3 linked regions of the Homo sapiens genome follow. The protein of the gene in region 3 purifies or fractionates together with the protein of the main gene of each other region. This does not show direct contact. Each region holds a gene or a part of one and is shown on either strand. Other genes may lie near its edges. The genes, in order: CREB3L2, NADK and RALGPS2.

Region 1 (3,646 bases), on a different chromosome or scaffold from region 3:
GTATATATGTATGGGAAAAACCATACAGGGTTTATATATGGGCATATAGCATGTAGGGTTCATATGCCTTTTCCTATACATATGTACTTATGATAAAGTTTGATTTAGAAATTAGGCCCAGTAAGAAATTAACAATAATAATAAAATAGAACAATTCTAACCATATCTTCTAATAAAAGTTACATGAATGTGGCCTCTCTCTCTCAAAATTTCTTATGGTGGTGTACTCAGCTATTTTCAGATAACTGCAGGTATTTTTATTGGCTGCAGGTAGTGTTTCTTACTATAGTGTATTCAGCTATTTTAAGGTAACTGCAGGTATGTTCATTGGCTACAGGTAACTGAAAGCTTAGAATACAAAACCTCAGATAAGGGGGGACTACTGTACTGCCTAACCCCATGCTCATTCCTATAGGTGTAGGTGTGAATTTGTGTGTGTATTCCTTACTCACCATCCCTTTATTTCTAGGTGAGAACACCATACGCTTCTTATCTGACACCGGAGTCCCCATATTCTCTAGATCTTGGGCATAAGGTTTTGGAAGGCAGGCTGATTCTTTTTGTTTGTTTGTTTGAGATGGAGTCTTGCTCTGCCGCCCAGGCTGGGGTGCAGTGGCACGATCTCGGCTCACTGCAACCTCCGCCTCCCAGGTTCACGCCACTCTCCTGCCTCAGCCTCCCAAGTAGCTGGGACTATAGGTGCATGCACCACCATGCCCAGCTAATTTTTGTATTTTTAGTAGAGACGGGGTTTCAGCATATTGGCCAGGCTGGTCTTGAACTCCTCACCTTGCTGATTCTTTTTTTTTTTTTTTTTGATGGAGTCTCGCTCTGTCGTCTAGGCTGGAGTGCAGTGGTGCGATCTCGGCTCACTGCAAACTCCGCCTCCCAGGTTCACAATATTCTCCTGCCTCAGCCTCCCCAGTAGCTGGGACTACAGGTACCTGCCACCACGCCCGGCTAATTTTTTTGTATTTTTTAGTGGCGATGGGGTTTCACAGTGTTAGCCAGGATAGTCTCAATCTCCTGACCTCGTGATCTGCCCGCCTCGGCCTCCCAAAGTGCTGGGGTTACAGGCGTGAGCCACCACGCCCGGCCCTGACCTTGCTGTTTATTTAATTTCACTTTACAAGCCCTTACTATATACATTGCATTACATTACTCATACAATTCCACTCAGTGGAGGCAGAAACACAGCAGTTCTCTTAAAACGTCACAGAAAGCGACAGACTCTTTCCCTCATCTGCTTCCCTCTCCCTTATCAGAACTCAAAAATTAGATGTCAGAATGGATCAGGGAACACAGTCTAGAACAGCAGTTTGCAAACTGTGCTCTGTCAAGCTCTGGAGAATTCCCAGTGATGCCGCAGTCCAGTGGATGAGGGGCCCCAGGGGAACCCCCACTTGCCTCTTCAAAGGGAGAAGCTCCACTTTTACCACTTTTTAAACATTGGACTTTCACAGAAGATTCCTTTTGGAAGACTGAGAAACCCAGCTCTAGGGAAATAAAACAAGACCCTGCCCAACTTGCCACATGCTGTCTTACCCACGGAGGCTGTGTAGGGCTCCTGCAGGGAATGCTGGCTGGGCAGAGCCATCTTGGTGGCAGAAGGATAGGGCCCGTAGCCTTGAAAGAAGCTGCCGAATGCAACGGCAAAGCACAGCACCACAACCTGTGGGAGAGAAAGAGGGGAGAGAGAACACGAGGGGCTGTGGACTTCAGCCTCTGGACAGCACAGCTTTATACCCAGGGACACAGACTCTCCTCTTCAGGCCAGTGGACTGCACCCACCAGTCACATCACCAGAGTGCCTCACCGAGGAACAGCCTCAGAGTGGAGTTCCTCCATGTGGTTTCTCCTACAGCACAGCACTTGGCCTTGGCAAGTGGAGGGAGAGGGGAGACAGGGGCCAGGCCAGGGGCGGTCACTGTGCTACCCTGCTGGGAAGCTCACCATGAGGCAGGTGCCAGTCTGCGTGCCAGCTAACTTGCAGGTTCGAGAAACCTTGCCCATCACCAAAGTCTGAAGCTTCTGGAGTTGCTGAAGGAGAGTCCTGCCAATGATAACAACAGCCGTGAGGGGAGTCTGACAGAGAAGAGATGCTTTTTGATCTCTCCATGTGACCCAAGAAGGCCGCCGTGCCTTTGTGCCTGCATTTCAACAGAGCCCCAAGGGACAGTTTCCTCTGGAAGAAGATACGAACACCAGTACCTTCTAGCACCATTGTCACAGAGCTCACTGGGGCTCAGAATCAGCCTTCACACTTGAAAGTCCTGTTCTTGCACTGCCCTGAGTTAGAGGTAACTGCCTCCACATTACCCCTGACAGGCTGTGGCTTGTTTCTCAGCGATTGAGAACAAAGGAAAAGGAACACTCTGATTGGATGGTGGCTAAAGTCAGAATGGTTGTGTCTCTCCTAAATTCCTATGCTAAAACCCAGTCCTCTATGTGACGGTATTAGGATGCAGCACCTTTGGGAGATGATTAAGTCATAAATGGAGCCCTCATTGATGGGATTCGTGCCCTTATAAGGAGCTGAAAAGACTAGAGTGCTTCCCTTCCACTATGAGAGGACACAGCAAGAAGCTGCTTTTTGTGAACCAGAAAGCAGGCCCTCGCCCAACACGGAATCTCCCAACACTTTTATCTTGGACTTCCCAGCCTCCAGAACTGTAAGAGATCAATTTCTGTTGTTTGTAAGTGACCTCGTTTATTACATTTTGTTATAGCAACCTGAACAGACTAAGAAAATGTCGATTAAAAGAAGAACTCATTTAAGCAAGAGATGAGAAACATTGACAAAAACATAAAAAAGGGACAAAGGCAAAGAGAAGGAAAAATAAAAAATGACCAGCAGAGAACAACAGAAGGAGTGGCCAGAGGTGGGGGCTGTGACTGGAAATGCCAACAGAGAGTAACAGGCATTCACAGGCAGGTTAGAAGAGAGAGAGAAAGGCCAGAGGTGGGGGCTGTGACTGGAAATGCCAACACAGAGTAACAGGCATTCACAGGCAGGTTAGAAGAGAGAGAGAGAAAGGAGAGGAAAAACAAGAACGGCTCTGTTTAAGGCAGAGAGGCAAACAGCCACCTGCAGCTCAAGCCTGTGGTTCTTAAACGCTCACAGCACCTCCAGAGTCAGGAAACGAAGCCAACATATGAAAGAACAAAGATGCCTGCTCAACTGGACCCTCAAGCCCAGAGTCAAGGGTCTTTAAAACCATCCTTTGAAACAGATTCTAGCCTTTCTCCAGGAAAAAGACAAGAGAGCAAGAGCAGAAAAAAAAAAAGGAGACGTTTTATCCCTAAAATTGGACAACTGTGCCTCTCCTTAAAAGGCAAAGTTTGAGGGATAAGAACAGTCTTATATACTCTGCTCTGTGTGACATCAGCACACAGAGCAGATGGTAAAATTCTTTGCAAATTCTGAACACTGCAAGGCATAGAAAAGGATCTGACAACACACCCTCCTGAGTTAGAGCACCCGGGAAGAGTTCCCTGTGAGTGGTGTAAAGAGTTGAAGCTCCTCCTCATCCTCATCCCCCACCCCCAAACCCAGTGCATATGGCAAAGTGGAAAGATTTTATGAGCAGATGCTTTCTCTTGGGTCTCAAGGATTCTCGGAAAATGTGTGCTGTGATGTAACAAT
Region 2 (3,646 bases), about 180 Mb from region 3:
GCCTGCTTCGGACTCCCACAGTGCTGGGACTGCAGGTGTGAGCCACTGCGCCCAGCCTGGATTATAATTCTTTACACATAAAACACAGATATCAGATCGATCACTGTTGCGTTTTTCCCATGACACTATGACGGGCCTCCAGGCAGAATGTGTTGACAAACTGAACCATCAAATAGCAAACGCAACCCACCCCAGAATTCTCACTCACTCTTAAAGAAACAAAAAGGCAGCCCTGAGGATCTCATGTGGAAGCCGCCACACCCACGGGCTGTGACCCGGTCTCCAGGCCCCGGCTCGCCTGCCGTCCACTTTCTCAAAGCCACTGGAAAAGCCACAGCTGGGGAGCCCCCGCTCGGATGCCTGCACTCAGGGGGTTCAGGGAGGACGCCCATGTGGCTTTTTGTTTAAATGACCTAAACATGTACTTCTCACATGAAGTGCTAGAATCTTCCTCAACACAGCGATCCCACAACTCCACACACATCCCGAGGACTCCCCCATCCCATGGCCCCCGGCACTCACATGATGGTCTAGGGGTTCTCTCCCTTCCAAGAACCCCCCGTCCTGGGGCCCCAGCACTCACATGATGGTCTGGGGGTTCTGCAGCACACAGGCCTTTGGTCCAAAAGTGGTCACCGGGCATGGCCCATGAAGAGAGCGTGTCCTCCTGTGGGGAGAGGGCAGTGTCAGAGCCACCAGGGCCTGAAACCAGACATGCAGTGACAGACACAGATACAGAGGAGGTTACACGGTAAGGCATACATGCAATTTGAAAGATGCCAACTCCATCTGCCCAGCAGCCACACAATAGCCCTTGGAAGGTTCTGCCCAGGTCCATGGCTGCACTGGAGCGGCACCTGTGAGGAGCACGCATGCCCACGCGCCGCTCAGATCATGACCCAAGCCGGGGAGAGCTTCAGCCCAAACAAGGAAAATGCCAGGGCCAGGGCCAGCCTGGGATCAGAATTCCTCAGTGTCTCCAGGACCCCTCTCTAGATCTGCATTTGGGACTCAAAACCTGAGACAACATCTCATCTCTAAATCGTCTAGATTAAAATTCTAGCACAAATGTTCACTCTGAACTCATGTCAATAAAAAAGACGTAGGCCGGGCGCAGTGGCTCACACTTGTAATCTCAGCACTTCAGGAGGCTGAGGTGGGTGGATCACGTGAGGTCAGGAGTTTGAGACCAGCCTGGCCAACATGGTGAAACCCCCATCCTTACTAAAAAAAGAAAAATTAGCCAGGCCTGGTGGCGTGTGCCTGCAGTCCGAGCTACTCAGGAGGCTGAGGCAAGAGAACTGCTTGAACCCAGGAGGTGGTGGTTGCAGTGAGCCGAGATCGAGCCACTGTACTCCAGCCTGGCTGAAAAAAGTGAAACTCTGTCTCAAAATGAATGAATGAATGAATGAATGAATGAATGAATAAAAGACGCCAGATGAACGGCTCAACAACTTTCCTAGTGATTTAAACATGGCCAGGTCACAGTTAAATCACCCAGCCAGGGGCTGTGGCAGCCGCACGCGTCCTGGGGAGAATGCTGTCAGGACCGCTGTGCTCCTCAGGGTCCAGCACTGAGGCTGCCCTCGTCCTAGGTGCCCGGGAGCCTCCCAGTCCCTTCACAAACTCAGAAAACTTGCACACAGCTGGCCAGGCAACGGCCCAACAAAATCCTCAAGTCCCAATGCAGAAGAACGGCCTTCCGCTGCCTCGCAGGGCCAGACAACCCCAGGAGAGCCGTGGTGCCCTGAGGGCTGCTCCACAGGTGACACAGGCGTGGCCATCAGTGGTCACGGACTTGTTTACCTCAGCCTTTTAAAAATTGGTAAGTACAGGCCGGGTGCAGTGACTCACGCCTGTAATCCCAGCACTTTGGGAGGCCAAGGCAGGCGGATCACGAGGCAGGAGATTGAGACCATCCTGGCTAACACGGTGAAACCCTGTCTCTACACAAAAATACAAAAAATTAGCCGGGCGTTGTGGCTCACGCCTGTAATCCCAGCACTTTGGGAGGCTGAGGTGGGCGGATCACCTCAAGTCAGGTGTTCGAGACCAGCCTGGCCAACATGGTGAAATCCCATCTCTACTAAAAATACAAAAATTAGACAGGCGTGGTGGCATATGCCTGTAATCCCAGCTACTCAGGAGGCTGAGGCAGGAGAATCACTTGAACTCGGGAGGCAGAGCTTGCAGTGAGCCTAGATCACACCACTGCACTCCAGCCTGGGCGACAGAGCAAGACTCCATCTCAAAAAAAAAAAAAAAAAGAAGAAGAAAACGAAGTACATTACAAAAGAATTTTACTTACTTACGAACTGAAAAGATTATTGCGGAAAACAATGTTTCTCGAAGTGGGTGTTGGGATTTAATGTTTCCTTCCCAAGGACAGGCTATGCTTGGGCGTATTTGGCTACCTCCTCCCCCACCTCACCCTGAAGGCGCCTGTCACTCACTATGGAGGCGACCTCTGACCCAGGGCTGCTGTCATCAGGTTCAGAATGCAACAGAAATGGTGCATTATGCCAAAGAACCCACAGGAAAAAAAAATAAAACCCCAAAGCAATTCTGTTCACGCAGTCACTGCGCTGGGGTGGCCTGGAGGTACAGGACAACGACCCCCACTGACAACGAGGCAACGAGGCATCTGAGAAAGGCTGAGTGGTGACGTGGTGCCTGCGGGATGAAGGCAGCCACCAGCGCTCGTAGCCTCCTGGCTCAGGCAGCGACTCTGTAGACAGAAAACGTGGGAGTAGCCTGTTTCTCCACGGCTGCCACCACGTCAGAGGCGCTACAGGCTCTCCCATCTCACTGGGTAAGACAACATGCTTTCTAAGACTACTTTTCACCAAAAAGCCCCCCTTGCATTTGATAGTCGTGATCCTTGTTAGGCAGCGCCGGCTCTGGCAAGCTTCCACCTAAAACTCACCACATTTACCATCACCAGAACCGAGAGCACCATCCCCAGGCACCATCACAGCTGTGCTTGTGCGGCCACCGTCATGCAAAGCCCGGGGCGCTGTTGCCCAAGCAGCATTGTGCAAGGGTGAGCGCTGTGGGCACTCTTGGCACAGGAGGGAGCCACTTGCCCAACATGTGAGAGGGCTGGGCCCGCCCAAGGCCACGCTCATAACTCTGCCTCCACCAGCCCTGCTCACAGTGCAGAACCCCCCAGCCTTCGCCTCTCAAAACAAGCAGAGCCAAGAGGGATGTCCCCTCACACCCCAGTGACTTCTGTAGAGCAAATGTTTCCAGGCCAGGCACAGTGGCTTGCACCGGTAATCCCAGCACTTTGGGAGGCTGAGACGGGCAGATCACCTGACGTCAGGGGTTCAAGACCAGCCTGGCCAACATGGTGAAACCCCGTCTCTACAAAAATACAAAAATTAGCCGGGCATGGTGGTGCACGCCTGTAATCCCAGCTTCTTGGGAGGATGAGGCAGGAGAATCACTTGAACCTGGGAGGCGGAGGTTGCAGTGAGCCAAGATTGCGCCACTGCACTCCAGCTTGGGGGACAGAGCGAGACTCAGTCTCAAAAAAAAGTTTCCTCTCCAAGTGCGCTTCAGTCTAACATCAAGGGTCAGCGTAGGCGCCAGTTAGATGGTTCTGTGCTGATACAGACAGATAGAGAAACACGGTGGCACCCTG
Region 3 (3,746 bases):
TGTTGCATGTATTATTGTTGGCATATAGCCAACGACATTTTCCTTAATCTCTTAGTAACACTTTAAGAAGACTAAACATTTACCCAACTCAATAACTGGAAGGGGTTTTTCCTCCAAGTGCTAATTCATTTAGTTGTTGTTTATTTGGGACTTGAAGCAACTAACATCTATGCGAAAACTTTCTGTATACATAATGCACTTCCCTCCTTTTTACCAATCATCTTCCTTTTTCTTTTCTTTTTTGGACTCTTGTCATTTGAAATATTGGGTGGGGGGGAACGCTTTTTTTCTTCTTTTGATTGCTCTACTTCTTCTAGTGATTTCGTCATGATTCAAGACTTTCTTTGAAAGTAAAATGGAATAAAAATGAAACACTACGAACTTTGTTGCCTATCCTCGCTGTTTTTCTTTTTGACTTAACTTTGCGTTGGGGTGCTTTAAAGTAACCCTATTTGAGAGAAGGAGGTTGAAGGGCATTCTAGCGTCCCCAACTAGAGTAAAAGGGCTATGACAGAAGGCAATCAAAGGAGGAAATAATTAGCAATCTTCAACGTTCAAGATTAATCAGTTCTGTTTAGCGGTTATTAAAGGGAAGAAAGAAACCAAATGGGAATAGTGAATTATTGGTCCTTTCATGTTTTACACTTAATGCTGGTACATAGTATTCTTTCCACATTCTACTGCACATTGCCTAGAGAAAGAACTGCAGATCATCAAATAATTATCCATTTCCAAATGGTCTAATGACAGCAGATACAAAGGCGGCTCACTTAAAACCTTCCGTTAACAGTCACACTGCATCAAATGGTGCTAGCTTTAAGTAGGCCACCCATTTAGTAGACTCTGAAACAACACCTTTCCGCCCAATTTCTGTCATTTGCTCCTTAAGTCAAGGGTAGTACCCTGCGTAACATCTTACAAAGGCCTACTTCTAACACTTCCCGAATCTTAATGTGTGAGGATGTTGATCACCATAATTTATGACCTTATCTAAGACAGTGGGGTGACTCTCCACATTGGGAGCCCCCTCATTTGTCCTCAGTGACTTCTAAAAACACCGCTGGCGTGGGCTGGATATTTGATCTTGGGGCCAAGTGCTTCCAGACTTTGTTCTCTGGCCTTAAAGGTGAAGAGCCCGGCGCTGAAGGCCACAGACATCACGGCGGATTTCACAGAGGGCCGCGTTCCGGGAGCGGGTGGCCAGGCGGTGGCGGACGCCCCACCTGTCCATCCTCCTACCCCTTCCCCCCCCCGTTGTTTGGCCGGTGGGAGCCCCTCCTTTCAGCAGGCGCCGGGCGGTGGGGTTGCGGATGGCTGCGCGCGCTGCGGGCACCGATCACCGGCGGCAGTTGGGCTCCGCGGGGCCGAAAAGCTGCGGGCGGGAAGCGCGAGGTTAAGACCCTGACGGCTGCAGCTCTCAGAGCCCCCGCGAGCGCGCTCCGTTGGTGCGCGCGCGCGCGCGGCTCCGCCCCGCCCGCTTGGCGCGCGCCCCCGCCAGGTCCGCTCTCGTCCCCCACCCCTGGCGCGGACGGGGTGGTTCCAGCTCACTCTCCTCCCCCGAGCGGCAGCGGCGGCGGCGGCGGCGGCTGCTGCGGGCGCTGAATGAGAGACGGTGACTGTTCGGGTCGACGAGTGCTACTCTAGGCGGCGGCGGCCGTGGCGGTGAAGCGTGAGGCCGGCATCGTCTTTCCGTCCTCTGAGGCGACGGCCGCGGCTGCACAGGTCGGTGGGCTCAGGCCGCGGGGCGGTGCGGGGGAGGGAGGGAGGGAGGGTGGGTACGCGGCGCCCCCCGGGCGGCGCGGGGAATGGCGGCGGCGGCGCTGCGGAGTGTGGCTCTCCCGGCCGCGGGCCCCGGGGCTGCTCGCCCTGCGCGCAGGGAGGGGGCTGCGGAGCTGGGGCTGAGGCTGAGGGAGAAGGGCGCTGGGCGGCGCGCCTCCCTCGGCCGCGGGTTCTCAGAGTCGGAGCGGCCGTGGGGTCCCCGCTCGGGGGCGCCGTCCTGAAGCCGGGGGCGCTGCGACCCCTTGAACCCGCCTCGCTCTCCCTCTTGGGTGGCGGAAGCCCCCAGCCTCCGCCCGCTCTGTTCTGGCGCCCAGCGGCGCCTCAGTCTTCCTTCAGGTGAGCCCGATCCCGGACCTCGGAGCCAGGACCAGCAGAAGCCGGGCCACACCCCCTCCCCTGGCCCTGGCGGCTGCGCCCAGAAGCCTGGCCGCAGAGTTGGCCGCCCGCGAACCCGCGGAGTCGCGGTCAGGGTGACCTGTTGCAGAGCGGCCCGCAGCCCGAGCGGCCCCCGCCAGCCCCGGCCCCGGAGGGGCTGCGTCCTGTGCTGGCCTCGGGCCGGGCGCGCGGGCCGGGTGTGGGGCAGGGGCCGCAGCCCCAGGTCGGCTTGCTCTACGGCCTGGAACCGGGCTCTAGAAAAAAAAGGAGATTCCGAACGTATCTCATCAAACACTTGCAAAGCCGGGAGATCTGTCTGCAAATATCCGGAATTCCATTGCAGTATCGGATTAGGTAGGCTCATAAACACCGTGCTTTTGAGGTGATTTGGAAGAAACGCGAGCCACGAGCGAGGAACTAGTTTCTGGAAAATAGCCGTAAACCTGTGCGGAGCGAATTATTAACCCCCCGCCCCAGCTCCCCCCTCGAAGCTCTTTTCCTGTAGCTGTGTGTTGTGTAGACGCAAGCCAGTTTCAGTGTACGTGGGCGTGTTTGGGAAGAAGCTGCGAGCTGATAGGAGGTACCTAGTACAAATGTTAATTTGTTTGAGTTGGGAGGGGTAAGGGAGGAGGAAGAAAGGGCACTGATGTTAGCTGTGGAGGAGGGGCAATTGAAATACTAAATTTCTGTTAAAAAAAAAAAACCCCAAAAGAAATATCTAATGCCTACTGTGTATTTAAGACCATAAAGTGGAATCACACAAGCAGCAGTTAATTGAGCTTTATCGTTTATGCTCCCTGGATTTTTTTTCCCCAACACTTTAGTTGCTATAGAGAGCCTTTTCTTACCAGTGTTCATGAGTTGACTTGGGTATTTTTCTGTGTCCACCATTAGATCGATTCCTGTTCAAGTTTCTTTGAAGATGACCATCAGAATTTTAGGAAACTTTTCAGCCCGTGTTTGCAGAGTATCGCTGTTAGACAGATCATAGCTTGCTCATTATAAAGCCTGTTCCACTCAAGATCATTATGCTTGTACAAGTGCTATAGAACAAGTGCTATAGAATCATACACATAAGTGTATTACTCTTACGGCTAAATATCTTAATTTAGAATTATGAGGAAACTTCCAAAACTGAGCATCCAAACAGTATTATTTTAACAAAGATAACCTCTAACTCAAGCTTTGTAGGCATGAAGTTTATCATGTAGCTTCAAAGGTCTTTTGAGGCAGATCTAAATATCAAAATGTAAGGGCATTAATGCCATTTGGGATAAACAATTTCAGTGTATTTATTTTAAGCGTAGTTCATTTTTTCTTTTTAAAATTCAGCATAATTTTTGAACGGTAAGATGTGCGTTTTTCCCATTATATTCCACTTTTTTTTTTTTCCTTTTAAGATAGGTTCTCCTTATTTGGCTCAGGCTGGTCTCAGACTCCTGAGCTCAAGCGATCCTCCCGTGTCAGGCTCCCAAGAAGCTGGGACTACAGGCATGCGCCACTGTGCGTTATTTCACTTTTCATTGAATTAAGGAATTTGACTTTTAGTAATACTTTGGGGCAGGACTCTGGAAATACTGTTTAGTTTGCCT

Evidence for each region.
Region 1: the proteins of RALGPS2 (region 3) and CREB3L2 purify together in Homo sapiens (co-immunoprecipitation; one large-scale study listed by IntAct). This does not show direct contact.
Region 2: the proteins of RALGPS2 (region 3) and NADK purify together in Homo sapiens (affinity purification with mass spectrometry, with the first as the bait; one large-scale study listed by BioGRID). This does not show direct contact.

The regions. Positions count from the first base shown.
Region 1 is NC_000007.14:137,883,450-137,887,095, forward strand, and holds part of CREB3L2 (cyclic AMP-responsive element-binding protein 3-like protein 2), read right to left. Parts: intron 2,054-3,646; coding exon 1,954-2,053; intron 1,673-1,953; coding exon 1,546-1,672; intron 1-1,545. UniProt on the Homo sapiens protein: Transcription factor involved in unfolded protein response (UPR).
Region 2 is NC_000001.11:1,761,369-1,765,014, forward strand, and holds part of NADK (NAD kinase), read right to left. Parts: intron 668-3,646; coding exon 584-667; exon of another isoform or gene 525-583; coding exon of another isoform or gene 523-524; intron 1-522.
Region 3 is NC_000001.11:178,723,698-178,727,443, forward strand, and holds the start of RALGPS2 (ras-specific guanine nucleotide-releasing factor RalGPS2), read left to right. Parts: upstream 1-1,546; 5' UTR 1,547-1,722; exon of another isoform or gene 1,723-2,587; intron 2,588-3,048; exon of another isoform or gene 3,049-3,746. UniProt on the Homo sapiens protein: Guanine nucleotide exchange factor for the small GTPase RALA. May be involved in cytoskeletal organization. May also be involved in the stimulation of transcription in a Ras-independent fashion.